2 separate regions of the Homo sapiens genome follow, and region 2 is linked to region 1. The links come from fine-mapping of genetic effects on gene expression. A gene starts in region 1. The other region holds a variant in brackets. All regions are shown on one strand. Distances are from middle to middle. Region 1 holds the start of MMP24 (matrix metallopeptidase 24). Region 2 overlaps MMP24-AS1-EDEM2 (MMP24-AS1-EDEM2 readthrough).

Region 1 (16,451 bases):
TCTTTTGAGACAGAGTCTCACTCTGTCACCCAGGCTGGAATGTAGTGGTGCGATCTCAGCTCACTGCAACCTCCACTTCCCGGGTTCAAGTGATTCTCGTGCCTCAGCCTCCTGAGTACCTGGGATGACAGATGTGCACCACCATGCCCAGCTAATTTTTGTGTTTTTTAGTAGAGATGGGGTTTCACCATGTTAGCCAGGCTGGTCTTGAACTCCCAACTTCAGGTGATCTGCCCACCTTGGCCTCCCAAAGTGCTGGGATTACAGGTGTGAGCCACCATGCCCGGCCTGCTCCATTATAATTTAAGTTCCATGAAAGCAGGAAGTGTTATTAGATTTGTTCAAAGCTCTATCATCCCAGTACCGAGAATAATGTTCAACACAAAATAGGTGTTTCACATAAGTATTTGTTGAACTTGTTTCTTGAGTGAAATCAAACGTTATCATTTTGCTCCTCTGTTTTGGGTCATTCTGCCCAGAACAGAGTACTCATGCCTTTTGGTCTCAGGACCCTCTCTACACTCAAAGTATTGAGGGCCAGACACAGTGGTTCATTCCTGTAGTCTCTGGTACTTGAAAGGCTCAGGTGGGAGGATCACCTGAGCTCAGGAGTTTGAGGTTGCAGTGAGCTATGATTGTGCCACTGCACTGTAGCCTGGGCGACAGGGTGAGACCCTGTCTCAAAAAAAAAAAAAACACAAAAACATTCAGGCTGGGCTTGGTAGCTCATGCCTGTAATCTCAGCACTCTGGGAGGCCGAGGCAGGCAGATCATGAGGTCAGGAGTTCAAGACCAGCCTGGCCAACATAGTGAAACCCCATCTCTACTAAAAATACAAAAAATTAGCCAAGTGTGGTGGCTGGCACCTATTACGTAATCCCGGCTACTTGGGAGGCTGAGGCAGGAGAATCGCTTGAACCTGGGAGGCAGAGGTTGCAGTGAGCCAAGATTTCGCCACTGCACTCCAGCACGGGAAATAGTGCGAGACTCTGTCTCAAAAAAAAAAAAAAAAAAATTTCAGGACTCCAAATAACTTTTGAAAATTCAGGACTCCAAATAACTTTTGTTTATGTGGATTCTGTCTATTGATAAGTATCACACTAGGGATCAAAACTGAGAAATTGTTAAATATTTACATACTAATTCATTTAAAATAACAATAATAAACATGTTAACATAACATTTTTATTTTTAAAAAAATAATAAAAATTTAGCTGTTTTGTTCCAAAACGAAACAAAAAAAATAGTGAGAGGAATGCTACTGTTTTGCTTTTTTGAAAATCTGTTTTATGTCTGGTTTAATAGAAGATAATTGTATTATCCTATTTACTTCTCATTCAATCTGTATAATGTGCCATGAAGCCCTGGAAAACTACCCAGTACTCTCATGAGAAAATGAGAGTTTAAAAAGAAAACAATGTCTTCGTATTATTATGTAAATGGTTGTTGTCTCCATATATATCTGTTGTCTTTGTACATAGTTTTCCCTCCCATTCTACATAGCAAACTCCTGCTGGTCACTCAAGGTCTGTCTCACCTGCCATCTCTAGACAGTCAGTTGTTCCCTCCTCCCTACTCCCATTTCTCTATTATAGCACATATTATGTTATCTTGTTATCTGGATAATTGTCTATCTTCCCAACCGACTATCTTCCTAAAGAAGGCAACTATAACTTGATCTTCTTTACATCCCTAGCCCCACTCACAGTATCTAGCACCAAAAAGATATTTAATAAATATTAGTTGAATAAAGAAATATGAGGCCAGGTGCAGTGGCTCATGCCTGTAGTTCTAGCACTTTGGGAGGCCAAGGCAGGTGGATCACCTGACGTCAGGAGTTTGAGACCAGCCTGGCCAACATGGCGAAACCCCATCTCTACTAAAAATACAAAAATTAGCCGGGCATGTTGGTGGGTGCCTATAATTCCAGCTGCTCAGGAGGCTGAGGCAGGAGAACCGCTTGAACCCAGGAGACGGAGGTTGCAGTGAGCCGAGATCATGCCACTTCACTCCAGCCTGGGCAAAAGAGCAAAACTCCATCTCAAAATATATAAATAAATATGAAAGGAGGTGAAGGGAAGAGGGGACCCAGTTTATCTACAGTGAGCTCAGGCACTGATATAACATTTCTTTTTTTTCTTTTCTTGAGACAGGGTCTAGCTCTGTTGCCCGGACTGGAGTGCAGTGGCATAATCACAGCTAACTGTAATCTCTGCCTCCTGGCCTCAAGTGATCCTCTCTCCTCAGCCTCCCAAGTAGCTGGGACTACAGCCATGTGCCACAACTCCCAGCTAAATTTTTTTTTTTTTTTTTTTTTTTGTAAAGACAGAGTTTCACCATGTTGCCCAGGCTGGTCTTGAACTCCCGGGCTCAAGTGATCCATCCTCCTTGGCCTCCCAAAGTGGTAGGATTACAGGTGTGAACAACTGTGCCCAGCCAATATCATAATTCTTTTCTTTTCTTTTTTTTTTTTTCTTTTTTGAAACAGAGTCTCTTGTCGCCCATGCCAGGGTGCAGTGGCACAATCTTGGTTCACTGCAACATCTGCCTCCCAGGTTCAAGCAATTCTCCTGCCTCAGCCCCCAAGTAGCTGGGATTACAGGCGTGCACCACCACGCCCGGCTAAGTTTTGTAGAGATGGGGTTTCACCATGTTGGCCAGGCTGGTCTCGAACTCCAGACCTCAGGTGATCCACCTGCCTCAGCCTCTCAAAGTGCTGGGATTACAGGTTTGAGCCACTGCGCCAGCCCCAATATAATATTTCTTGTTAAGATTATCAGTGTCAAAGGTTTTCCAACATCACACTCTGGGGACTGTTGTGGGGTGGGGGGAGGGGTGAGGGATAGCATTAGGAGATATACCTAATGCTAAATGACGAGTTAATGGGTACAGCACACCAGCATGGCACATGTATACATATGTAACTAACCTGCACATTGTGCACATGTACCCTAAAACTTAAAGTATAATAATAATAATAAAAAAAGAAAGAAAAAAACAAACAACCCCATTAAAAAGTGGGCGAAGGATATGAACAGACACTTCTCAAAAGAAGACATTTATGCAGCCAAAAAACACATGAAAAAATGCTCATCATCATTGGCCATCAGAGAAATGCAAATCAAAACCACAATGAGATACCATCTCACACCAGTTAGAATGGCAATCATTAAAAAGTCAGGAAACAACAGGTGCTGGAGAGGATGTGGAGAAATAGGAACACCTTTACACTGTTGGTGGGACTGTAAACTAGTTCAACCATTGTGGAAGTCAGTGTGGCGATTCCTCAGGGATCTAGAACTAGAAATACCATTTGACCCAGCCATCCCATTACTGGCTATATACCCAAAGGACTATAAATCATGCTGCTATAAAGATACGTGCACATGTATGTTTATTGTGGCACTATTCACAATAGCAAAGACTTGGAACCAACCCAAATGTCCAACAATGATAGACTGGATTAAGAAAATGTGGCACATATACACCATGGAATACTATGCAGCCATAAAAAAATGATGAGTTCATGTCCTTTGTAGGGACATAGATGAAACTGGAAATCATCATTCTCAGCAAACTATCGCAAGGACAAAAAACCGAACACTGCATGTTCTCACTCATAGGTGGGAATTGAACAACAGAACACATGGACACAGGAGTGGGAACGTCACACTCCGGGGACTGTTGTGGGGTGGGGGGAGGGGGGAGAGATAGCATTAGGAGATACACCTAATGCTGAATGACGAGTTAATGGGTGCAGTACACCAACATGGCACATGTATACATATGTAACAAACCTGCACATTGTGCACATGTACCCTAAAACTTAAAGTATAATAATAATAATAATAATAATAATAAAAAGCTTTTCCTAGCAGCTGGTCAGTTTACCATATAGTTCATTAAGTGAATTCCAACCACTCATGTGGTCTTTCAAGTGAAGTGGAGAAGACAGAGGTCATTCATTTCATTTTATGAGGCAACCAAGGCCCAAATAAATGAAGTGACTTGCTGAAAGGCATACCAAAAGTCAGTGACAGAGCCAGTGCTTGAATCAGGTATCTGACGTTAAGTCAAGTGCTGTTTCCATTTTATCCCATGCTCATCATGGTGACTGGAGGCTGCAAAGTCAGAGTTCCCGTGATTCTATCTTGGGGTGTTGCTCTGAAACCTTCTAAACCTCCTCTTGAACTGATTTCACAGCAGTCTCTGGACCGTCCTCTTACTAAGGACTATCTTAGGGATCCATTTTATAAGCAACCATTGACTTCTATCAGCCTCTTCTTTCCTTATCATCAATACCTACTGCCATTCACATCCGCCATCCTTGGGAGCTGGTCAAGGTGGACCACCACAGTGCTATATCATCATCGGCAGTTCCACAAGCATTTGGTATTAGAGGAAAGGAGAAGAATAAGACAGAGCTCAGTCCAGTCTGTTCCCCTTCATTCTTTGAATATACTATTTCTTCTTTCTGGAATATATCCCCTCCCAAACCTTCCAACTTTGGCAGTTCATTGCTCTTTCCTCAGTGTTTCCACAACACTTTGTTCTCATTCGTGTCATAACTCATCATGTAACCACAATGATTTGTCTCTATCATCTCCCTACCGGGACTGTGAGCTGTTCACCTCAATGGTGTTAATACAGTCTTCAGTCTCTTTGATTTCCCTGAGACTGTCAACTCCTTCTCTCTCTCTCTTTTTTTTTAGACAGAGTCTCACTCTGTTACTGGGCTGGAGTGCGGTGGCGCAATCTCAGCTCTCTGCAACCTCTGCCTCCCAGGTTCAAGCGATTCTCAGGCCTCAGCCTCCTCAGTAGCTGGGATTACAGGTGTGCACCACTATGCCTGGCTAATTTTTGTATTTTTTGCAGAGACAGGGTTTCACCATGTTGGCCAGGCTGGTCTCAAACTCCTGGACTCATGTAATCCGCCTGCTTTGGCCTCCCAAAATGCTGGGATTACAGGTGTGAGTCACCACGCCCAGCCAACTCCTTCCTTTTCTTTGAACCTCTCTTCTTCTTTCCGGTGATACTCCACAATCCTGATTCTTCAGTCTTTTTGGACAATCTTTAGATTCACTTTTGGCTTGACTTTTCTCAGGCTCTGAATATGTATGTCTCAGGATGGAACTCTTGGCCTTTTGCTCTCTTCAACTCTTTGCTTTCAGCTTCAACTACCGTATTTACTTGAAGGTGTCCAAAATATCCATTCTCCACCTTCTTCGAGAACTCATTCCCATACCCATCTCACAGATCTTGTGGTCACCCCAGTTTCAGCAAGTCTAAAACCGAGCTCCTTGTCACCTCCTTCAAGCCAGTTCCTCCACATGAGGACTCCGTTTCTGTGAAGATGCTACCATCCATCTTTCTCGATTTGCCATCACTCCAAACTCCTTTCCCTCTTCTTGTATGCCCATTGTCTCTTAAATCTGTCTCTTTTCTCACCCCCATCCTAGAAAAAAATGGGTTCTGAAGTCAAATCGATTCAGCTCTATCACTTATGAATCACGCAAGTTTGGCAAACTTATTCAGAGTCTTCCACTTCTTTATCCTAAATTAGGGGTAATAATAGCATCTATTTCATAGGGTTTATCTATGAAGATTAAATGAGATATCGTGGAGGAAAGTGCTTAGCCCAGTAACTAGTATGTATTAGGCACTCAATAAATGTTAATTATTATTGTTATCCTTATTTCCTTATACTTAGACTATTACACTAGTCTCCTAACCAATCTCTCTGCCTCCTCTGGTCATTATTCTCTCCACTGGGAGGGGAACTAACATGGAATATCTATTAAGTGTCAAGCACCTCATGCTGAAAGCAATCTTATACAGTAATAGTAGCATCATTTTATAAAAATGGAACAGAGCCAAGATATGAACATAGGTCTGACGCTAAAGCCTGTGCCCTTTTTTCATCTCCAAATTACCACGTAATCATAAAATACTATTTTCACACATCATCCTGCTTAAACACACACATACACACACACACACCACACACACACAACCTTTAATGACCACCCTCCCCCATTTTCCTTCAGAACACAACCCAAATTTATTATCCTAGCATTCACTGTCTTGTACAACTTCCCTCACTTCCCAACACTTTCCTATAGGAACCCTGTGCTCCAGAGAAACTTATCTGCCGCCTCAGGCACATCCTGTACACCCTCAACTTCCTCCCTGAAATGCCCTCTCCTCTCCCCTCCCCTGGTTTAAATCCAGCCTTTCCTTCAGGTCCTAGCTAGAGTCCCACCCTCCTCCATTACACTTTTTCCTAACTTCCCCAGCCCCTCATCAGGTCTCCCTCGACCCCTGGAGCAGCCGCCTGTATCCTTGTTGACACGTGGTGTTTGCCATTCTGTTTTTCTTTGCGTTTATGTTTTCTCATCAAGCTGTAAACCTCTGCACTCCAGGAAATCGGCCTTCTCTTTTTTGTTTTTGTTTTTGGGTGTTTTTTTTTTTCCTTTCAGCATCCCAAGTAGCCCAGAGCCCTACAAATAGAAAGCGCTTGATAAATATGGGTTGTTTTGGATGAAAGATGATCTTCCCAGCTGGATGAGCTCTTTCCCTCTAGGGGTGAGGGACTGAGCTTCACCTCAACTTCACCTAATGTCTCACAGGAATGCCCCCTCTTAAACGCTCCTCAGGTCTTCTCTACCCCTTTCCCCCACCACCCCGGCCCAGGAGAGCCACTCAGAGCTCCCTCTCCGGAGTCACCCTCTCAGACCCAGGGCTATTTCTTTAGCTTGCTCTCGAACCCCGCCTTTACCCCAGAGCCGCTCCTCAGTCTCCTCCCCCAGGCTGCCTCTCAGGCCCCCTCTCCTCCAATGCCACTCCCTAGGACCCTCTCCCCAGGGTTCCGGACCCCCAACCCCGGATATGTTCCCCCAGGGCCATCCAGTTGTTCTACCTCCAGGATTACTGATTTAGCCTCTTCCCCCTCCTGCTCAGGGCTACCCCCAGACCCCGACCTCCAGTTCCACCCCTTCGGACCCTGCCTCTAGAACTGTTCTTTTAGCCTCTGCAACCCCCTCCCCAGCGCCGCTCCGCGGCCCCTGCCCCAGGGCTGGTCGGGGAGCCACTGCCCTCGCAGGTCCCGCCCGGGTGCTGCCCCCGCGCCCCCGGCCGCCCCCCACCGGGGCGGGGCGCGCGGAGGCGGGGGCGCGCTGGCGGCCGAGGCGGCGGCGGCGGCGGCGAAGGCAGGCGGGCCGGGCGCGGGCCCCGCCGCCGGGATGCCGAGGAGCCGGGGCGGCCGCGCCGCGCCGGGGCCGCCGCCGCCGCCGCCGCCGCCGGGCCAGGCCCCGCGCTGGAGCCGCTGGCGGGTCCCTGGGCGGCTGCTGCTGCTGCTGCTGCCCGCGCTCTGCTGCCTCCCGGGCGCCGCGCGGGCGGCGGCGGCGGCGGCGGGGGCAGGGAACCGGGCAGCGGTGGCGGTGGCGGTGGCGCGGGCGGACGAGGCGGAGGCGCCCTTCGCCGGGCAGGTGGGGCTGGCGCGCGGGGCCGGGGCGCGGGCTCGGGGCATCCGGGCAGGGCGGGGGGCGGCACCGGGGACGGGCCTGGGCCGGGCCGCACCTACTGCCGAGGTCGCGGAGGCGGCGCGCCGGGGGTCCGCGCCTTGGGTCCGGGCTGGCGCGGCCCAGGGCGGGGGCTGGGGAGGGCCTCGCCGAGGGCCGCCGAGGCCGGGAGCTGCTTCAGCACCGCGGACAGGGGCAGCGGGCGGGGGCCGAGCACGAGGGTCGGGTTTGTTGTGTTGGCAGTGGGGTGTGTGGCCTGCATGACTATGTGCGAGGGAAACCGTACAACGCCTCGGAGTAAATAGTAAGCGCAGCCAGTCTGTTGTGGGTTGGGAGAAGAAACCGAGGATGTTCAAGCTGGAGAAGGGGGAGGGGGAGGGCGGAGGAAGGACTCGATCACTGTCTTCGTAGCTGAAGGGCTGTCAGGTGGAGGTAGGATAGACTTGTTCTAGCTTGGCCCCACAGGGCAGAACTAGGGCCAGCGGGAGTGGGGGTTGCAAGAAGACAAATTTGGGCTCGATATAGGAAGAAGTTTGTAACAATTGGAGCTGCTCAACCAGCTTAGGAGGCGGCGAGCTGCTCATCACTGGCATGTGCAAGTAAAAGCTCTCGGAGGGGATTGGATGGAGGCATGCATAATGCTTGCATGGATGCATACATCATCATCACAATAATGCCAGCTAGCATTTACTGAACACTCACTATGTGCCAGGCCTGGTGCTATGTTTTATACGAATTATCCAATTCAATCCTCATAACTACTCTATGAAATAGCTGCAATTATTATCCCCATTTTACAGATGGGGATACAGACTCAAAGAGCTTAAGTAACTTGCCCAAGGTCACACAGCTAGTGAGTGATGGAATTGGAATTCTAACCTAGGCAGGCTGACTCTAGTCTCCCCTTATTTACCCATGACCTTATCCTATATCTCATGGGGGGTGCAGTTGGACTAATTTCTCTAGTATCTTCCAACCTAGAGGACTGCAATATTCTAATAAATGATGTTGGGACAATGGTGTTTTGCTGAGGAAAATCAGAGTGATAGCCTCGCCACCCTAAGAGATGGAGTATATTTGTTGAAGCAGGCAGTCTGTTTGTTTAGAAGAATCTGCCTCAAGAGATATTCTTAATTGGGCATGGAGCTCAGGGGGTCATACGTGCACTGAAATTGCGTACAAATTTGTAAGTGCAAATGTGTGTATTTCTAGGCGAGGACCCCTAGATTTCTTCAGCCTCTCAAAGGGTTACAGGTTCCACAAAACAACAAAAAAGATATGGTGTGTAAAAGAACCTTTAGTGCCAGTTGGCAGTTGTCCTCCAAAGATTTTATAATTGCTGGTTGACTTGTTGTGGAAACTTTGCTTAGCCTCTTTGTGTTTTCACATGTGTTTTATCACATGTTAAAGTAATGCATTTCCTAAGTTTATACCCTAGAAGAAAGATTGCTTTAGACTGCCTGAGTGCACAGGATGAGGTGGAAAGACCCTGGCCTGGGATTAAGGAGGCCTGGGCTCTGATCTGACCTTGGCCCCCATTGGTTTGTGTGACCTTGAGCCATTTCCTTGCCCTCTCTAGGCTTGAATTTCACCATGTCTAACATAAAGAGATAGAGCTAGACAATCTCAACTCTGAAACTTTTTTATTCCTACAATATTTCAAGCATTAAGAGGAAGCTAGTCCTTACCTGTATCAGTTTTATAGGCTTTGATTATTCCACCTCTTAGCCTTTGTCTTTTTAAACTTAAGTTTCCCCCTATGACACGAGACCCCTAGAATAGCCACACTCATTCTCTGGGTCATTTTAGTTGTCCTTTTCTAGATACCTTTTGGCCCTAATTTTCAATAGATGTCAACTTGACCATTGTCTCCAGATACAGGACCCTACGGTTTTGCATAAAGGAAGGTTGGTTTCTTCTTTGCTCTCCTGGTCCCATCCTGCTTCCCCCTTCCCTCTGTCAGCTTTCCTGATCTCAACACACTAGGCCACTGCCTTTAGGGAACAATCTATAATAGCTCCCGGAGCCTTTTCCTGGGTCAAAACTGATAGCCTGGAACACAACACCCTGTATGTGGATTATTTTTATCGGAGTGCATTACCTTACATTTCTCCACCTTGACGTTTGTCTGCCATCTTGCATTGCACTCAGTAACTTCCTTCAAGCATTCGCTCACTCTCTCTCTCCCTTCCTCCACCTCTTCCTCCTTCCTTCTCTTTTGGCATAGCATTTCCCTGTCTGAAAGGGCTTAATATGATCTGAAGTCTTGAAATTTTCACTTTGCTATATTTCTTCTGGATCACTTATAAAAAATTTAAGTGAGACAGGTCCCAGCATGGTCTCTTGGGGCCCCCTGCACTCTTAATCCCCTTTCATTCACGGAAGTGACCATTTATATCTATCTATTGTTTTCTAAGTGACAAAAACATCATCCTTAATTTGACAATGACTCCATTTTAAATGTCTAATACATTGTCCAAAACTTCCTGAAAGATAGACAAATTATATCCACTGCTTCTCTCAATAATTTGTGCCTAATTATCCTTTCACTGAACACTAGGGGATCACTTGATTGACACCTTATAGAAATATTGTTGCTTTTAAGCCGGCAGATAATATTGCTTACTCCTCTTTCTGTCTTTTAAGCCCTCTGGAGTCTGTCTCCACCCTACCCCTCCATTAGCAGGCCATATTTCCCACTGCTTATTGATAACGCATCCTTACTCGACAAGCTCATCTCTCCTTTACCCTTAGACAGGCTGCCCATATTTCTCTGGACATTGTCACATAGTTACTTCTGCACCCCTACCCGTTCATTTGAAACCTTTCCTTAAAGTTTCAGCTCAAGCCCTGCTTCTCCAATAAACTTTCCCTGATTTCTCTAGTTGTCATTTTCTTCTCTCTTCTCCAGGAAACATTTTTAAGGCAGCCCCAGCCAGTTTGTCATTTATTTATTTACTTATTTTTATTTATTTTATTTATTTATTTTTGAGACAGAGTCTCACTCTGTTGCCCAGGCTGGAGTGCAGTGGGGTGATCTCGGCTCACTGCAACCTCCGCCTCCCAGGTTCAAGCGATTCTCCTGCCTCAGCCTCCTGAGTAACTGGGATTACAGGCATGCACCACCACGCCCGGTTAATTTTTGTATTTTTAGTAGAGAAGGGTTTTCGCCGTATTGGCCAGGCTGGTCTCAAACTCGTGACCTCAAGTGATCCACCTTCCTCAGCCTCCCAAAGTGCTGGGATTATAGGTGTGAGCCACCGTGCCCAGCCCTATTTATTTTTTAATAGTTAAACATTATTTTTGGGGAGAGGAAGGTTGGTTCTTAGGCAAGGCTTTCTTGACCAAAATGTTTTATTTTTTTACATTGAACAAAATCCCTGATTCTCAATGCTCATCATTAAGTATTCAATGAGCAATCAATGATTCTACTCTTTATCCTTTATCTCAAAAAGTTACATGGATCTGAAATAGGCACTCATGGGCATGGGGCTCCAAGCCCCCTTCTAAAACCCTTCTTAGAGATGGGACTCATTGCCAACTTGTACTTTCTTCGGTAGAAATCAAGCCTATTCCTTTTGGCAGTGGTTCCACAAGCTCACCCTTGAGTTCCTTCAGAACTCTTTAGGTAGTCTTCTAATGGTAGTGGCATCAATAGAAAGAAATTGAGAGATAACCGTGACCTTAGAGATCACCCAGTACCTACTACAGCACTTACTAGATACTTCTTTAATTGAGTTGCCCAAGGGCACAGAACGTGATAGTAGATGATTCGGAACTACTGTAGAACTTTTCCTAGTTCTCCTGATTTCTAAATTGAAAGCATTTTTCATCATCATTGATTTTTCATTTCGTATCTATGATCTTTCATTACCAAGCCAAAAAATTTTTTTATTCAGTCTATCTTCTCCTTTGCTTTATTTTTCTCCACACCCCACAACCCCCGACCCCTTGAAGCTCAACAAACAGGATCCTATGCTTTCTTTAGTCTTTCTTTTTTATCTTACACATCAAGAGGTCCCACTGATTCTCTAACTGGCTTCCTTCATTTGATTTATTAAAAGCACCACTTCTCTTATTTGCTGAGTAGAATGCTCCTCAAATACTTTTCTGGCCTTCCTAGTTTCCAACTTGATTCTGAGGAAGATCAGAACAGGATGAAAGAGACAAGTCAATTATCACAGGCCACATGAATAAGTAACAGAGTGTGACTCCTAGACCCAGGACTTATGGATTCCTGCCCTTGAGACTGGTTTTGAGTGGTTTGTGCTGAGGAGATGGAGAACAGTCTTTGGTTTGAAACTGTAGTCAAGGAAGATTGACCCCGAATGATTGGAGGGGTAAGAGAGTGACCTACTAAGAAGCACCAACGTATTCCCAAATCAAAATATTCTTTCACTGTGATCATGGCCTCCAGTATATCTTCATTCTTGTCTGGAAAAAAAAAACTCACTATTAGGAAGTTTTCCCTTTTACATAAGCTGGATCTAGTCTACTGTATTTTTAATTCATTTTCTCTTATTTTTACTGTGGGGTTTCATATTACTTTAATAGCTGTTTATATTTGTAAGGTGCTTTGCACTTCCCATATGCCATGTATGTGGCCCTATTTGGTCCTGGGAACAATACCATGAGGTAGATAAGGAAGACATTGTCCTCATTTTATAGGTGAGTAAAAGGAGACTCAAAGATGATGTGAATTGCCTATCATCTTGTCTAAGGACCCACACATAGCTCATAAACATTAAAGCAGGCCAGGCATGGTGGCTCACACCTGTAATCCCAGCACTTTGGGAGGCCGAGGCAGGTGGATCACCTGAGGTCAGGAGTTTGAGACTAGCCTGGCCAACATGGTGAAACCCCATCTCTACTAAAAATACAAAAATTAGCTGAGCCTGGTGGTGCATGCCTGTAATCCCAGCTGCTGAGGCAGGAGAATTGCTTGAACCCCGGGGGCAGAGGTTGTAGTGAGCCAAGACTGTGCCACTTCACTCCAGCCTGGGCAAAAGAGTGAATCTCCGTCTCAGAAGAAAAAAAGAAATTAAAGCAAATAACAGAAGCTAGGTTTTCTGTTCTTGGGCTCAGCACTCTGCCCACTATACAAGTTTCCTGTTCTGGATTATTATTGTAGCCTTTTAGCCAGTCTTTTCTACTTTCAAGTATGTCCTACTCTGGTCCTTGAAAGAGGTATTTTTAGAACTAATAAAAGTAAATTATAATTGTACCCAAAAGACTAATCTTAGGAAATGCCTAGCCCTATAGTATGGTATTGTTTGAACTCAAAACAGGAAGAACAAACCACAGCCAATATCTCCTCAGTACCTAGCACAGTGCATGATACATTCTGGACATGTGATAAATATTTTAAAATTAATTTTGTTATCTAATCCCCATCAACTTCTTTGAATAGTGCTTGGCACACAAAAGTCGCTACCTTTTGTGAAGAATAAATGAATGCATGCTAGAGGTATAACAAGGTGCCGGGAAGCACCGAAGAGGGAGGAGATGAGGTTCCCCAGTTGAGGTTCGGGAAGCCAGAGAATGCTTCAGGAAGAAGGTGGTATCTGAGATGAACCTTTGAGGGAGGAGAATGATGGAGAAGGGTGAGTGGGGCAGTCCAGGCAGAATAAAAAATATGAACCATGGCTCCACAAAAATGCATGGCATGTTTAGGAAACAGTGGATAATTTGATGTGCCTGAATCATCAAGTTACTTGCTGTTTCCAGTAAGAGTGTATAAGGAGAAGAGGCTGGAGAGGGAGACTGAGAGCAGATTGTGCATTTGGCTTTTGTCCAAAGGCTGAGGGGAGTCATTAAAGGTTTCTGAGCAGAGGAGCGACCTGCTCAGAGCCATGTTGAGGAAGTGGAGGGACTGGAGTTTGTTCCTGAGTTGTTCTGGCTGCTGGCTCCTGCCCTGAATGCTTTTAAGCTTTCTTAGCACAACTTAGGGGCGAGTACTCATTTTAGGGCTCAAGTGACCCGCCCACCTTGGCCTCCCAAAGGGCTTACAGGCATGAGCCCTGGCCTTGCCTGTTAGCAGTAATTTAAAGACTCAATTCTATGCCACAAACACTTACGAGGCATAAAGGGCACCAAAAGTACTTGGCCAGAAAGTCAGGAGTTGTTCTTTACTCCTTTCTCTCTTTATACATATGTATGTATAAAGATCATTTGAGGCCAGGAGTTCGAGACCAGCCTGGCCAACATGGTGAAACCCTATCTCTATTAAAAATACAAAAAAATTAGCTATGCATGGTGGTACATGCCTGTAGTTCCAGCTACTTGGGTGGCTGAGGCACAAGAATCACTTGAACCTGGGAGGCGGAGGTTACAGTGAGCCAGGATTGAACTACTGTACTCCAGCCAAAGCAAGACTCTGTATCAAAAATCAATCAATGAATCAATCAATCAGTCCACTCAGGAGTCAGTTATATCTGAAGCCTATATGGCAAAAACTAATGTTTGACAAAGCTGGCTGGTGATTTTCCAATATATATTGTTATTTTATGCCTTTCTGAATGACTGAAATATTGAATAATAAAAAAAATTAAAAACAAACCAAAATCTGATCACCTTACTCCCACCCTCACCTGGCTTAAAATGACTCTTAGGACAAAGATTATACTATTATTACTGTACTACTATCACTTCTTCCTTTTAGTTTTATTATGGAAAACTTTCAAATGCATATGAAAATGGAAAGAACAATATTATAAACTCCCTTGGACGCAGCACCCACAAGGATCACTTGAGTCCGGGAGTTTGAGACCAGCCTGTGCAACATGGCAAAACCCCATCTCTACAAAAAAATACAAAGAGTAGCTGGGTGTGGTGGCATGTGCCTGTAGTCACAGCTACTTGGGAGGCTGAGGCAGGAGGATTGCTTGAGCCCAGGAAGCTGAGGCTACAGTGGACAGAGATCACACCACTGCACTCAAGCCTGGGCCACAGCGCAAAACCCTGTCTAAAACAAAAACAAAAACATGCTTAATGAAGCCGATGAGGCCCTGCATGACTGAGTCCTTCCCATCTCTCTGACTTCCTTTTATACCACCCATTCTCCCCATTGGTCACTAGACTCCAGTCACCCTGCCCTTCCCTCTCTTTTTCTAATATACAGGCTCCTTCCCATTCAGGAATTCAGTAAGGTACTCTTTCCTGGAGTCTCATTCTCAGCCTTCACCTAGCCTCTTCTGTTCATTCACAGATGTCAGCTGAGATGTCATGTACTCAGGGAGGCCATCCCTGATATCACAGCCTATATCTCCTGCCACACACTTTTGTAGCTCCTGGTTCTTCTCTTTCATTCCACTTATCACCACTGTAATGAAATGTTTAGTATTTCCATGTCTATCTCTCCCACCGGCTGTAACTTCCATGAGGATGAGTTCAAAGGGGACTACAGGCATGTAAACCATTATTTATAATGTAATACAAAATATGCTATAAATGAGGATACATATAATGCCATTGGGAGCACATAGAAAGTCCATTTAACCCCAGACAGATAGCCCTCCCTGATGAAGTGGCATTCAAGTTGCATTTTGAAGTAGCGCACCATGGGGAGGCCAGAGTACATATGGGAAAGGAGTTCTAGGGAGAGGGAATGAAATAAAGGCACAGAGGCAGGACTCTGCAGGATATGCTCAGGCAACACAATTAGGTCAGTATAGCTAGAGGTTGGGGTACTTGAGGTGAGCAATAAAGGGTAGAAGGTACAGGACAGAACATGAGGCTGGCAGAACCAGGCATGGTGGCTCATGCCTGTAATCCCAGCTTCTCAGGAGGCTGAGGCTGGAGGATTGCTTGAGACCAAGAGTTTGAGGTCATAGTGAGCTATGATTGTGCCACTGCACTCCAGCCTGAGCGACAGAGCAGAACCCCATCTCTACAAAAGAAAACAGGGCTGGAAAGGTGCATTGGCATCACATTGTAAGGGTTGTTGTGTCATGCTAAAGAATCTGGACTTTAAGACTGGCAATGAGGAACCAGAAGATCGGCTTCACAGTCAATCCACTTAGGCTAAAATAATGGAACTTTTTAACATGACTTACAGGTTATTTAGTTCAACCATCTCCCTGTTGCAGTTAAGAAACTGAGACTTGGTCTGGCTGTGGGGCTCACATCTGTAACCCTAGCACTTTGGGAGGCCAAGCTGGGAGGATCACTTGAGCCCAGGAGTTTGAGACCAGCCTGGGCAACATGGCGAAACCCTATCTCTACAAAAAATACAAAGATTAGCTGTGTATGGTGGCATACACCTACAGTCACAGCTACTTGGGAGACTGAGGCAGGAGGATTGCTTGAGCCCAAGAAGTTGAGGCTACAGAGAGCAGAGATTGTACCACTGCACTGCAGCCTGGGCCATAGAGTGAAACCCTGTCTTAAAAAAATTAGGCCAGGTGCAGTGGCTCACACTTGTAATCCCAGCACTTTGGGAGGCTGAGGTGGGTGGATCACCTGAGGTCAGAAGTTCGAGATCAGCCTGGCCAATAGGGTGAAACCCTGTCTTTACTAAAAAATACAAAGAATTAGCTGAGCGTGGTGGTGGGCACCTGTAATCCCAGCTACTTAGGAGGCTGAGGCAGGAGAATCACTTGAACCCGAGAGGCGGAGGTTGCAGTGAGCCAAAATCACGCCATTGCACTCCAGCCTGGGTGACAAGAGCAAGACTATGTCTCAAAAAAAAATTTTTTTTAATTTAAATTTTAAAAACCCTGAGGCCTGGCCACTGGTCTTTGTCTTCACTTTTCCCTTTTCTTAACTCACCAAGAAGTCGAGCCTCAGGGGACAGAAAATTAGCAGATCTGCGGGAGGGCCTTGGACAGGGTGAGGAAGACTAAGGCCTCTCCTTTTCCAGAGAGTGAATGAGACCATGGCCACACTCCTGACTGTGGGCAGAGGCCTCCCCAGAACTGCAAAACTTGGACA
Region 2 (13,717 bases), 30 kb after region 1:
GCAACCTCCGCCTCACGGGTTCAAGCAAGTCCCCTGCCTCGGCCTGCTGAGTAGCTGGGATTACAAGTGTGAACCACTGCAGCTGGCTAATTTTTTTTTTTGTATTTTTAGTACAGATGGGGTTTCACCGTGTTGGCCAGGCTGGTCTCGAACTCCTGACCTCAGATAATCCACCCGCCTCAGCCTCCCAAAGTGCTGGGATTACAGGCGTGAGCCACCGTGCCCAGCTGAAGAGTTTGAATTTTATTCTCAGTGTTTGGGGAAGTCGCTGGAGGCTTTTAACCAGGGCATCCTGTAATCTCATTGCATTTACAGAGCATTTTCACATGTACTTCCTCCTTGAAGACGCACCTCCACCTAAGACCAAGAACTAGAGTTCTCATGTTGCAGAGGAGGAAACTGAGGTTCATATTGGTTCAGCCACTTGCCTGGGGGTCCTATGACTAGTGGTGGAGCTGGAGCTTATCAAGCCCATATATTCTGATTCTCAGTCTTTATACAGCTATTTCCTCATCTATGATTGTGAGTGCATGAATTAATGAATCAATCAATCATGTTCTTGTTGGGGTCCATCCAAGCCAGGGTCCCAGAGTGTAGCTTGAGGATGCACATTGCTTTCCAGACTGGAGCTGGGGAATAGGCAGTCCCTTCCTAAAGTGTTCAGTGACCACAGTGCATATGCGTGTGTGTGTGTCCTCTCTCTGCCCAGGTGGATGAAGAAACCCCGATGTGGTGTCCCTGATCACCCCCACTTAAGCCGTAGGCGGAGAAACAAGCGCTATGCCCTGACTGGACAGAAGTGGAGGCAAAAACACATCACCTACAGGTGCTTCGACTCTCCCTCTTCCTCCCTGCCTTTGGCTCCACCCTCACTCTGTTTTTCCTGGCCTGAGTTTCAAAGGCTCACAATGTAGGGGGGCCTGGGGATCAGGCTTACAACATAGGCCAAGAGCCAGGCATGTGGGCATTGGCACTAGGTGCTGAGAGCCCATAACCTTGTCCTCCTTGTGGCTTCCACAGGATGCTGTGACTCCAACCTCAGGTTTATTTGGTCCTCTGGGGGCTCTTAGTTGTCTTCTGTTTAGATGCCTATAGTTTTTAGGTTACAGGAAGTGGGGTATGAATGGTTTGGTAACTTTCAGCTGTGAAAAAGAATCGTGGCTTGCAGTGAGCTATATCATGCCACTGCACTCCAGCCTGCGTGACAGAGTGAGACTCTGTCTCCAAAACAAAACAAATGAAACAAAAACCACAAAACAAAACAAACAAAACCATGGCTTAATTCAGTCTCCTTATCACTGCCTGCCAAACCCCATTCCCTCTGATCTGGATCCTCCCACCCCAAAATCCACCTGATGGACTTCACCTGAGATTCCCAACGCAGAGTTCCAGTTGTTTCTTAAGGAGTATAAAGAACTGGGACCTGAATCATAATAGTGTCATCTTTGACTGTCTGGAGGAACCAAGGGCAGAGCAGGATCCATCTCCAAGTCAGATCAGTGGCCCAAGAACTAGATGATGGAGCCCATCACAGCAGACTGAAGCACCGGAGTGAGGCTGGGGCAAGGGCCAGGCATTGAGCAGGCTCAGGTGGGGGTGGGGCAAGGGGCAGGCACTGGACAGGCTCAGGTGGGGCTGGGGCAAGGGCCAGGCATGGGCAGGCTCAGGTGGGGCTGGGGCAAGGGCCAGGCATGGGCAGGCTCAGGTGGGGCTGGGGCAAGGGCCCGGCATGGGCAGGCTCAGGTGGGGCTGGGGCAAGGGCCAGGCATGGGCAGGCTCAGGTGGGGCTGGGGCAAGGGCCAGGCATGGGCAGGCTCAGGTGGGGCTGGGGCAAGGGCCAGGCATGGGCAGGCTCAGGTGGGGCTGGGGCAAGGGCCAGGCATGGGCAGGCTCAGGTGGGGCTGGGGCAAGGGCCAGGCATGGGCAGGCTCGGGTGGGTGCTGGCTGGCACTTCTCAAGGCTCTGCTGTCATCTCAGGTGGATCCCTTTGGTGCAGAGGCAAGATCTAAGACAGAGATCCTCAAGAGTTGAACTAAGGGCTCCCCTGCTGACAAGCACTCCCTACAGAACGGGACTTTTTTTTTTTTTTTTTTTTTTTCAGAAATCTGACAAGAGAAGGAAAGTTAGGGTTGAACTAAGGGCTCTTCTGCTGATAAGCTGTCCCTTCAGAACGGGATTTTTTTTTTCCAGAAATCTGACAAGAGAAGGAAACTTAAGAATCTAGGTTAGAAACTGAATAGACTCTTGGGTCTCTTGAAGGGGTAGAGTGGATCAAGAGAAAGAAGCACTGGGTTCTAACCCAACTCTGAGTAACTTCTATCACTAGACTTCTCTGGGCTTCAGTTTCCTTACGTGTGGAGTAGGTAGAATAATCCATGCCCCAGAGGGTCACAGGGCAGGGAACCCACAGGTAGTAACGTTGTTTTGTGAAGAACCAATGCAATATGAACACAGCGACGCTAAACAGCTAAACCTATAATGGATTAAATCAGATACCGGCCAGCTTCTAGGCAGACAAGCCAAAGATTGGTACCAAAGATTTTTTAAAGAGACTTTTCACTTAAACTCCTCTCTATTATTTGAATATTTTTATAACTTTTATAAATGAACATATTTCGTATTAGGGAAAAAAACTTAAAATTCAGAAAATGCTATCTACCAATTTCCTTTGGGTTTTTTTTTTTTTTTTTTGAGACAGAGTCTCACTCTTGTTACCCAGGCTGGAGTGCAGTGGTGCAATCTTGGCTCACTGCAACCTCTGCCTCCGGGTTCAAGCAATTATCCTGCTTCAGCCTCCCGAGTAGCTGGGATTACAGACTCACACCACCACGCCTGGCTAATTTTTGTACTTTTAGTAGAGACAGGGTTTCACCATGTTGGTCAGGCTGGTCTCGAACTCCTGACCTCATGTGGTCCGCCAGCCTCGGCCTCCCAAAGTGCTGGGATTACAGGCGTGAACCGCTGCGCCCAGCCCCAATTTACTTTTCTCAACAAACTAGAGTGGAATCCTTTATTCGACACAGCTTTGCTGGAGATCAAATGGAAAACACTGAGTAAAGCAAAGCCATCTGACTGAGGCAGGGTGGGGATCCAGAGCTCTGTTACTCAGCCTCTTCTTCAATCCCTGAGGCAGCTAAGCAGAATTCTAGGGTTCAAAATCAGATCACTGAGCCACATTGTCTCAGGTATCTATTTTAGCTCTGCTAGTCTCTGACTCTCTGATCTTGCCTAATGATCCTCCCCTCTCTCACCAGCATTCACAACTATACCCCAAAAGTGGGTGAGCTAGACACGCGGAAAGCTATTCGCCAGGCTTTCGATGTGTGGCAGAAGGTGACCCCACTGACCTTTGAAGAGGTGCCATACCATGAGATCAAAAGTGACCGGAAGGAGGCAGACATCATGATCTTTTTTGCTTCTGGTTTCCATGGCGACAGCTCCCCATTTGATGGAGAAGGGGGATTCCTGGCCCATGCCTACTTCCCTGGCCCAGGGATTGGAGGAGACACCCACTTTGACTCCGATGAGCCATGGACGCTAGGAAATGCCAACCATGACGGTAAGGCCATGAGGGGACAGGGGTCAGTCTTGGGCTGCTCAGTTGTTGGGAAAGAACTTGGAGGACATCCTAGATGAGTTTCCTGCTTTCTAGAGCCTCTTGTCCAAGAACTAAGACCGTAAGAGGGTGGGAACTGTGATTTCTGATAATATTCAACGTTCAATCCACCAGGGCCAGGGCCATGGAGATGAGTCAGATCACTTAGAAGATAGTCCGGTTGGCAGGAGAAAAGTAAGGTTAGGCCAGTAAGAAGATAAAGTAATGGACCAGAGGCTGAAGAAAAAGTTTAAAAGGGGCCAGGCACAATGGCTCACGCCTGTAATCCCAGTACTTTGGGAGGCCAAGGCAGGTGGATCACCTGAGGTCAGGAGTTCAAGACCAGCCTGGCCAACATGGTGAAACCCTGTCTCCACTAAAAATACAAAAATTATCTGGGCGTGGTGGCGGGTGCCTGTAATCCCAGCTACTCAGGAGGCTGAGGCATGAGAATCGCTTGAACCCAGAAGGCAGAGGTTGCAGTGAGCCGAGATCGCACCATTGTACTCCAGCCCAGGCGACAAGAGTGAAACTCCATCTCAAAAAAAAAAAAAGTTAAAAGGCATTAAAGCTGAAAGAGGGGTCTGAAAGTAGTAGGCTCTGGCCTGAATGATGAGGGCTCCAAAAGCCATCTTATGAATGACACGACTGGCTCTCTCCTTTGTCACCCTCACAGGTGAGTAGCAGGCCCTGAAATTATTCTGGCATCCTTGGATAATTTACCCTGCACCACTATGGTTCAATGAATATTTATGGAGGCAGAGTCAATACCGTGCAGCAATAGTAATGATACCCTGCAGGTTGCCAAAAAATTCATCATCAATATTTACTCACAAGGCACATGCTTAGTATGTAGGCAAGTGTACATTATTACACCCATTTTTAAGATGAAGAGTTGGGGCTCAACTGGCATAGCTGAAAGGTGACAATGCAGGTATCAAGCCCTGGTTCAACTACTGGCTATGTGATACCCTCGGTCTCCTCGTCTGCAAAGTGAGGGGCTGGATTAGGTGATCGCTAAGGGCCCTTCCAACTCTAATGAACATGATACAAAGTCTTGCAAAGACCAGGGGGAGCTGAATGTTTGAAAAAAATGGCATGATCTCTGTCCCCTGGCAGTCCAGAGTCAGTCTAGCAGGGGAGTTAGGTGTGCACGTAAGTAACCCTGTCATAGACAGACTCTACCCAAGGCTGTAGCAGAGGCACAAAGAAATATGTAGGAGTTTGGAGGAAAGAGGGACAGAGGAGTGTGGCTTTTGGATTATAAGAGATGATAATTAGTGGGTATGCTGGTGTTCTGAGGCCCGTGCCAAGTGCTTGCCACCCATTATGTGTGGAAACTATTATATCTATTAATACATTATAATGCATAATTAAATTTATGTATTAAGCAATATATAATGTTAAATTATTATTATAGGTAAATATTGCTATCTTCATTTTACAGATAGGTAAACTGAGATATAGAGAAACATTAAGTCACCTACCTAAGGTCCCACAGTTGGTGAATGGTGAAATAAGGCTTTGAATCTGGGCATTATGGCCCTGGAGCCCATGCTGTCAGCCATCATGCTAAGCTTCCATGGTTCTCAAACTGTAGGGCACAGCAGAATCACCTGGGAACCATTTTTAAGAATTCAGATTCCAGGCCAGGCACGGTGGATCACACCTGTAATCCCAGCACTTTGGGAGGCCGAGGCAGGTGGATCACCTGAGGTCGGGAGTTCAAGACCAGCCTGGCCAACATGGTGAAACCCATCTCTACGAAAAACACAAAAATTAGCCAGGCATGTTGGCAGGTGCCTGTAATCCTAGCTACTCTGGAGGCTGAGGCAGGAGAATCCCTTGAACCCGGGAGGCGGAGGTTACAGTGAGCCGAGATCATGCCACTGCACTCCAGCCTGGGCAACAGAGATTCCGTCTCAAAAAAAAAAAAAAAAAAAAAAAAAAGACTGCAGATTCCAGGACCCTAACCTCTTGTCATTCTGATTCTCTGGGTCCGGGGTAGGGCCTGGGAATCTGCAAGTGGTCTAATACATTCCTGGGGCCTTCTGATGCAGGTGTTCCATCACCATGAGAAACGCTATCTTAATACCTAGAGTTTTCCTACCTGGCCTGATCATAAGAACCAATGGGGGTTCTTGTTATAAACGGGGATTCCCAGGCCCTTCCCACAGAAATCCTGACTCTTGAGCTCAAACAAGCTTGGGAAACACCGAGCATCCTTTTTTCCTGCCCTGCGGCTGCTCCAGGCTGAGAGCAGACTCTCAAAGCTGGTTTGGTGTCTATAGTTGGGGCCATGTTTGGTGTCTATAGTTGGGGATCACCTCCTTGAGAACACTTTATATCATCGCATGGATTAGGGATTGGCAGCTCTGGGGTTATCTGTCAAAGGCTGGACCAGGAGGTGGTTTGGCCAAGGCTCAGCCTAGGCAAAGTCATGAACCTGTTAAATTGTTCTTTGTCCTCTTCTTTCTTCAGATTTTTGTCCTCTTTCCTATTGAACTCCGTTTCCTTTGCCCTGGTATCTCTCCCGTATGTCCTGCATGTATTCCTGGCTGAGTACCTGTTCTTTATCTCATTCTTATTTTTGGATCGGTGTCAACGAATGGCTGTCTGTGCTAACAGATAAGATGTGAGGAGAAGAGAACTAATATTTTTGAGGCCCTGTTATGTGCCAGGCACTGTTAGCTGATAGGGTTTTAGTTATATTCCTGATAGAGGCAAATGAATGTCCAAAGAGTTGTCCAGAGGCAACGGGAAGACACTCCCACTCCTCTGCCCTCCCCTTCTGCCCAGCACTGGGGGTGTGCACTTCCCACACCTGCTCCTTGCTTTTGCAGAACTTGTTGGACCCAGCCCCCAAATCCCAAGAGCCGGTGGTATGTGTGGGAAGGACCGGGGACCTGTGGATGGGCACCATCCCAGCACCTCTCCCATCTGTCCAACCCTAACCTTCATGAAAGACTGCCAATTCTGATAGAAATTCCAAGATTGCTAATGTTTTCTTTGGATAAGAATCAGGACTTTGCTCTGCTCTGGAAAACCAAGCAGGAACTGTCCAGATGCAGCTCAGGACCACAGCAATCGACTCCTGAACTGGAATGCAGTGAAGGCAGGTTTTGGGTGAGAGGCAAGGAACCAAAATTTATTGAGCATCCATATATTATCTCGTTTAATTTCCACATAGACTCAGCAAAGGGGTGGAGTTTCCTGGGAACTTTTTGAACTTATTAGCTTACTTCTTTTTTCTAAACTCTCATTATGGAAAATTTCAAACTCACAAAAGTAGGAAGAATGCTTCTATGATCTCCCAGATACCCACCACCTGCCTCAGCAATTATCAACGTTGTGGCATTCCTATTTATCTACCTTTTTTTGGCTGATGTATTTTAAAGAAAATCTCAGGCATTCTAACATTTCACCTTTAAATACTTTAGTATATACCTCTAACAGATAAAGGCTAATTTTTAACATAAGCACACAATCATTATCAAGCCCAACAAAATTAACAATAATTTTTTAAAATCTAATACCCAGTTCGAGTTCACTTTCCCAAAGTACCTTGGAAATGTCTTTTACAGTTGTTTGCTTGAATCAGGATCCAAACAAGATCCACACACACATGGCTGACATGTCTCTTAAAGCCCTTTTTATTTAAAACACCCCCGTCCTACACACACGTTTCCCTCCATATATTTGTTGAAGAAACTGGGTCAGGTGTCCCGAGTATAATCATTTGGCGTGACTAGAATCAAGTTTACTTTTAATACGTCTCTCTTGCCCATAATTCCTGAATGTTGTTCATTAGATTTACAGGCTGACTAGATTCAAGTTCAATTTTTTTGGCAAGAATACTTCCTAGGTGGTGCTGGTACTTCCTATTCACCATATTAGCAAATACATATGATGCAGACTGTCCCACTTTTAGTGATGTTGAGGTCGAGCATTTGCTTCAGGTTGTGTCAGCCTGACCCAACCATTATACAATTCACCTGGAGAACTTAAAAAAAAAAAACAACAAAAAAGATTGCCTACGTCCCAAACCAAACCTCCTGAATCAGAATATCTTCCCCACCTCCTCCATGTGTTTAAAAGGCTCCCCGGGCCAGGTGCGATGGGAGCACTGGAGTAATCCCAGCACTTTGGGAGGCCGAGGGGGGGCAGATCACCTGAGGTCAGGAGTTCGAGACCAGCCTGGCCAACATGGCAAAACCCCGTCTCTACTAAAAATACAAAAATTAGCCGGGTGTGGTGGCACATGCCTGTAATCCCAGCTACTCGGGAGGCTGAGGCAGGAGAATGGCTTGAACCCGGGAGGCGGAGGTTCAAGTGAGCCGAGATTGCACCACTACACTCCAACCTGGGTGACAGAGTGAGATCCTGTCTCAAAAATAAAAAAGAAAGAAAATACTTTTTAAAAAAATAGGAAATTCACCCCTTTGGAAAGTGGCAGAGCCAGGTGTGACCCCAGGACTCCGCATTTTTAAGTCACCACAGGTGGTTCTGCTGCAGGTGGTCCGAGTATTTCCCTTGGTAAAATACGGTGCTTTTGGCGCTGTTCCATTCCGGGGGCTGTCACCTGGTTCTTCAACACAAAGCTTGTCCTCAAGGAACCCACAGTCCTGGGGCAGCGAGCATGTGCACTAGTGGCAATCACGTGGGGAGGAAGCGGTCAGTGCCATAAAGGCAGTTCAGGGAAACTGCTGGGAGGGCACAGCAGAAGGAGCACTCACTGCCAGCTGGGAAGTCATGGAAGGCTTCCTGGAAGACAGGCATGGAGCTGAACTTTGAAGGAATCAGGTTATTCCAGGGGAAGGGGCAGCACTGGCAGAAGAACAGAGGCAAAGGGAAATGCTATCACCTTTCGTGGGGCTGGGGGAGTTAATGAGATGGGAACGACCAAATATGGAGATCCTAAAAGAAAGAAATGAGGCAGAGACAAGGTCCACTTGAGTAGCCGAGTAGACTGCTGGGGACTTGCTCGGAGGCCCAGGGACTTACAGGAACACACCCTATCAGGGGTGCTGGTGCTCACACACAGCTCAACAGGACCCTGCTAATGAAGGGTAATACTTCTGTACCAGGAGCTGGTATCAGCGCATTACACACCCTGCCCCATGAATCTTCACCCACATCCCTATGACGAAGGTGCCATTGTTCCTTCTATCTTCCAGAGGAAGAATTTAAAATGTCACACTGCTAGGACATGGCAGAGCTGGGATTCAAAACCAGGCAGTCTGGCTCCCAGAGACTGCATTCCTGACCACTCTGCTTCCCTGCCGCTCACCCTCTTGAAGAGTGAAGACCCTAGCAGCCTCCTGCCCATGGAGCATGGGGTCCTCATAGCAGGCCTCTCCTCCTCATACCTCTGCCTTCACCTCACAAGCTCAGGGAGTCCTCCTGCCCCTGCCCTGCTCCCTCTGTCTCCCCCTCAGGGCTCTCTTGGGTTTCTGTGCAGCAGGATACTGGCTCCCTCGCTCTTCCCTTCCTTTTGGTTCCTGGACCCAAACCACAGGCCTCTTTCCTTTAAGGGGTCACTCCTGTTCTCTGCAGACCCAGAACAGGGGTTAAAAGAGCAAGAGACAAGGCTGCGGACAAAGGTTTTGAGTCTCCCACAGTGCTCAGAGCCGTGTTCCCTGGTTCCCAGCTGAGCTCCCTGTGGACAGCCCCTGGGGAAGAGCCTGCTCAGGAGACAGAGGCCCTGAACAGCTTGTCCCAGGTCATAGAATAGCCCAGGAGCACAGCCAGGACTGGACCCCAGGAAGCAGAGCTGCCTTCCGCTGGCTCTACCAGTTTGTTTGGGATGGAGCTCAGCGATGAGCTCACCCTTCCCTGCTGCCAGAGGGGCCAGGACCTGAG[T/G]AAGGAGCTGGGGGCGGCCTGGCCCTCTCATGCCAGCAGAAGGCCAGCCCCAGGCTTTTGGCCAACCTTGCACTGATCTTGCCCATCCCCCTTCCTTTCCGTTGCTCAAAGGTGGCTTCACAGAAGACACTGGCGGTGTCAGTAGTGTGGGAGGCATGTACTGCCCGTGGCCTGGGTCTGCCCCATGGGGTTCTTCTCTCTTCCAGAGACCTAAGCCAGGAAGGCCAAACAATCCCCACCCCCATGTGTCCCTAGGCCAGTGACGCTGGGGCCAGAGTGGGCAGTAGGACTCTAGACCACCTCCTAGGTTCCTGGCAGCCTCCCTGGACTTACAGGTGGCAGGAATGGGCCGAGCCATGCCTTAGGGCCAGAAGATAAGAGGCAGGGCTCAAGGGGCTACAAATGCCAGAGGTCAAGGCAAGCAAGGGTCTGACACTGGGCAGACAGGAGTCAGGACTGGTGATCCACAGCCTACCTGACTCCCTACCCCCTGCATTTTCTCCCCAAAGCTGCGGTTACTTCATCCCCCTAAGTTCAGGCCTCCTTGTCCTGTCCTAGGCACAATACAGAAGCCCAGGGGAGTTGGCTTTCAGAGGATCTGGTTGCTGGCGCTCCACTGGCCTCGTGCTTCCTTTCTGGTCAATGGGCTTCCTCCAGTAACCAAGCTTCTATCTTACATAGGATTACAACAGCTGCCATTCTGTGTCATACCACGCACTTCACGTGTATCTTATTCAACCTCACACAACCCGGTGAGGTAGGTCTGATGCCCCCAGTTTACAAGTGAGGACATTGAGGCTTAGGGGTAGCCCTGCTGGCCATATTCACAAACTGGCAGGGGGAATGAAGGTAATCTGTCCTACTCAGGAGCCCAAGCTCGTAACCACCGTGCCATGGAGCTGCCTCAGTTCCACCCTCAGGATCCTGTGTCCCACTTCCAGGACCTGGAGTGTGTTTTCACCTACACTTGAATCCCTGCCTCAATCTTAGCCAACAGTTCCCTGCTTCCACAACCAAGGTCCTGCAGAGAGCTGCCCACGCCCGGGCCCCACCTGCCCTGCCCGGGGTCTCCTGAAGCTGACTGCCAGTTTGCCAGGACTTGCTCTCTTTGTCCCCACTCCCTCCCTCCACCTCAGGGCATCCTTTTTTTTTTTTTTTTTTTTTTTGAGATGGAGTCTCACTCTGTTGCCCAAGCTGGAGTGCAGTGGCGCGATCTTGGCTCACTGCAACCTCCACCTCCCAGGATCAAGCGATTCTCCTGCCTCTACCTCCGGAGTAGCTGGTACTATAGGCGCAGGCCACCATATCTGGCTAATTTTTGGTATTTTTAGTAGAGATGGGGTTTCACCATGTTGGCCAAGCTGGTCTCGAACTCCTGACCTCAAGTGATCCACCCCGATCAGCCTCCCAAAGTGCTGGGATTACAGGCGTGAGCCACCACGCCCAGCCAGCTCAGGGCCTTTTCATCTCTTGTAGGGGTGGGTTGCCCCTCCACACCTGTGGGTGTTTCTCGTAAGGTGGAATGAGAGACTTAGGAAAGAAAAAGACACAGAGACAAAGTATAGAGAAAGAAATAAGGGGACCCAGGGAACCAGCGCTCACCATATGGAGGATCCCGCCAGCCTCTGAGTTCCCTTAGTATTTATTCATCATTTGTGGGTGTTTCTCGAAGAGGGGGATGTGTCAGGGTCACAAGACAATTGTGGGGAGAGGGTCAGCAGACAAACACGTGAACAAAGGTCTTTGCATCATAGAGAATGTAAAGGATTAAGTGCTGTGCTTTTAGATATGCATACACATAAACATCTCAATGCTTTACAAAACCGTATTGCTGCCCGCAGGTCCCACCTCCAGCCCTAAGGCGGTTTTTCCCTATCTCAGTAGATGGAGCATACAACCGGGTTTTATACCGAGACATTCCATTGCCCAGGGACGGGCAGGAGACAGATGCCTTCCTCTTGTCTCAACTGCAAGAGGCATTCCTTCCTCTTTTACTAATCCTCCTCAGCACAGACCCTTTACGGGTGTCGGGCTGGGGGACAGTCAGGTCTTTCCCTTCCCACGAGGCCATATTTCAGACTATCACATGGGGAGAAACCTTGGACAATACCTGGCTTTCCTAGGCAGAGGTCCCTGCGGCCTTCCGCAGTTTTTGTGTCCCTGGGTACTTGAGATTAGGGAGTGGTGATGACTCTTAAGGAGCATGCTGCCTTCAAGCATCTGTTTAACAAAGCACATCTTGCACCGCCCTTAATCCATTTAACTCTGAGTTGACACAGCACATGTTTCAGAGAGCACAGGGTTGGGGGTAAGGTTATAGATTAACAGAATCTCAAGGCAGAAGAATTTTTCTTAGTACATAACAAAATGGAGTCTCCTATGTCTACTTCTTTCTGCACAGACACAGTAACAATCTGATCTCTCTTGCTTTTCCCCACAATCTCTCGCCTGGACCCCAGCATCCAAACAGATCCCCCTGCCCCAGGTCTTGTTCCCTCTAATCCTCCCTCAACTGCAGCCAGAGTGATTTAATTGTATCACCACCCCCACTCCTACTTAAACCCCCCACTAGCCAAGAAGCTGATCCAAATTCCTTTGTATGGCATTAAGCGCCCTGCTTTCCAGCCTGGCTGACCTCATCTCTCTCCGGCCCTCCCCTCCTGCTTTGTTCCAGAGCCAGGTGGAATGAAACTGCCTGTCTCTGGACTGTGTTTATTGCATTCCATCCGCCAGGAATGCCACCCCCACCCTTCCTCTCCTGCCCCCTGAATCCGTTCTCCTGACTAACTTCTGATCCTTCAAGACTGAGCTTCAACTTCACCTTTGTGAAGCTTTCCCTGAACATCTTCCTCCAGGTTTAAATGACCCCTCTCTCCTCAGAATCCCTGCTCGACCCTCCCAGACATTCTTAAAGCACCCAGAGCCCTCTGCCTCACTTGTCACTCTCTCTCTCCTTGTCCCTGCTCTGCAGAGAGGCTTGGGAGGCAGGGGTTGTGCCTGATTTCTCTGTATGTCCCTGGTGTCCAGCACGGGGCCTGGCACAGGGCCCGTGCTCGGTGTTTGCTGAGGTAATGGGTTGGCTGACCGACTCATATCTAAGCAGGTGCCCTGGGCACCTCCCCACACTCCTCTCCACAGGGAACGACCTCTTCCTGGTGGCTGTGCATGAGCTGGGCCACGCGCTGGGACTGGAGCACTCCAGCGACCCCAGCGCCATCATGGCGCCCTTCTACCAGTACATGGAGACGCACAACTTCAAGCTGCCCCAGGACGATCTCCAGGGCATCCAGAAGATCTATGGTGTGTGGCAGGGAGAGGGGGGACTGCTCCTTCCTCGGGGCTGGGCTGTGACTGCCTACCTGTCATGGGGCAGGGGACGAGGGAGGGGGACGTTGCTATCATCAGCACTGCTGCTGTTTCTCTGTGTGTGACCTTTACAGACTTCCAATGGCTTTGCCTGGCCAGAGGGCAAGGCTTCCCCTGGCACACCTGGGAAACCTAGGGGAGGGTCTGAGCTGTAACTGAGAGGGACAAAAGTGAGGTGAGGGCCACCCATTCCCTCTCCTTTACCCCTCCCCTTCCACACTCTTCCCCGTCCCTTCATGCTTCTCTCCCTCCCTCCCACACCAGATGGTGACTGAGTGCTCCCATAGATTCCACCTCTAGCCAGGCAGGTTCACACATCTGCAGGAGTAACGGTGATACAGCGTGATGGGGACTATAACCAGAGCTTTGTTCTTTAAAAAGAAAAAACGAGGGCCAGGCGTGGTGGCTCTTGCCTGAAATCCCAGCACTTTGGGAGGCTGAGGCAGGCAGGTCACTTGAGGTCAGGAGTTTGAGACCAGTCTGGCCAACATGGTGAAACCCCATCTCTACCAAAAATATTAAAACAAACAAACAAAAAAATTAGCCAGGTGTGGTGGTGGGCAAGTGAAATCTCAGCTACTTGGGAGGCTGAGGCAGGAGAATCACTTGAACCCAGGAGGCAGAGGTTGCAGTGAGCTGAGATCGCACCACTGCACTCCAGCCTGGGCAACAGGGCGAGACTCCGTCTCAAAAAAAAAAAAAAAAAAAAAAAAAAAAAAAGAAAGAAAAGGTGAAAGATGAGAAGCTACTGCTATCTAGGTAAGATATGAAAGGCCTCCTACACACCTCTCTCCCAGTTCTGTTCACACTGGTATGTGAGGTTCTTGTTCTGGTCAAGTCAGGTGAGCTAGGGAGACCAGTTTACTTGAGCAAATGCTTGTCAAGACAGCACAG

What was found. PIP is the estimated chance that this variant, and not a neighbour inherited with it, causes the effect.
Region 2: its variant is the best candidate, but not a certain one, in a credible set for the expression of MMP24 in cerebellum (GTEx, PIP 0.75).

What each region holds. Positions count from the first base shown.
Region 1 is chr20:35,219,498-35,235,948 of GRCh38, forward strand. MMP24 (matrix metallopeptidase 24) reads left to right here and starts at 7,193. Exons shown (of 9, transcript NM_006690.4): 1 at 7,193-7,487. The coding sequence starts at 7,242. The region is part of intron 3 of MMP24-AS1-EDEM2 (MMP24-AS1-EDEM2 readthrough); the gene reads right to left.
Region 2 is chr20:35,251,196-35,264,912 of GRCh38, forward strand. The region is part of intron 2 of MMP24-AS1-EDEM2 (MMP24-AS1-EDEM2 readthrough); the gene reads right to left. MMP24 (matrix metallopeptidase 24) reads left to right here. Exons shown (of 9, transcript NM_006690.4): 3 at 710-826; 4 at 3,255-3,559; 5 at 12,596-12,757. Among named protein-coding and RNA genes, the nearest start is that of MMP24-AS1-EDEM2, 20 kb to the right of the region's middle. RefSeq lists enhancers at 10,079-10,840, 10,841-11,604, 11,605-12,366. The variant T/G (reference allele first, on the strand shown) is at 9,458.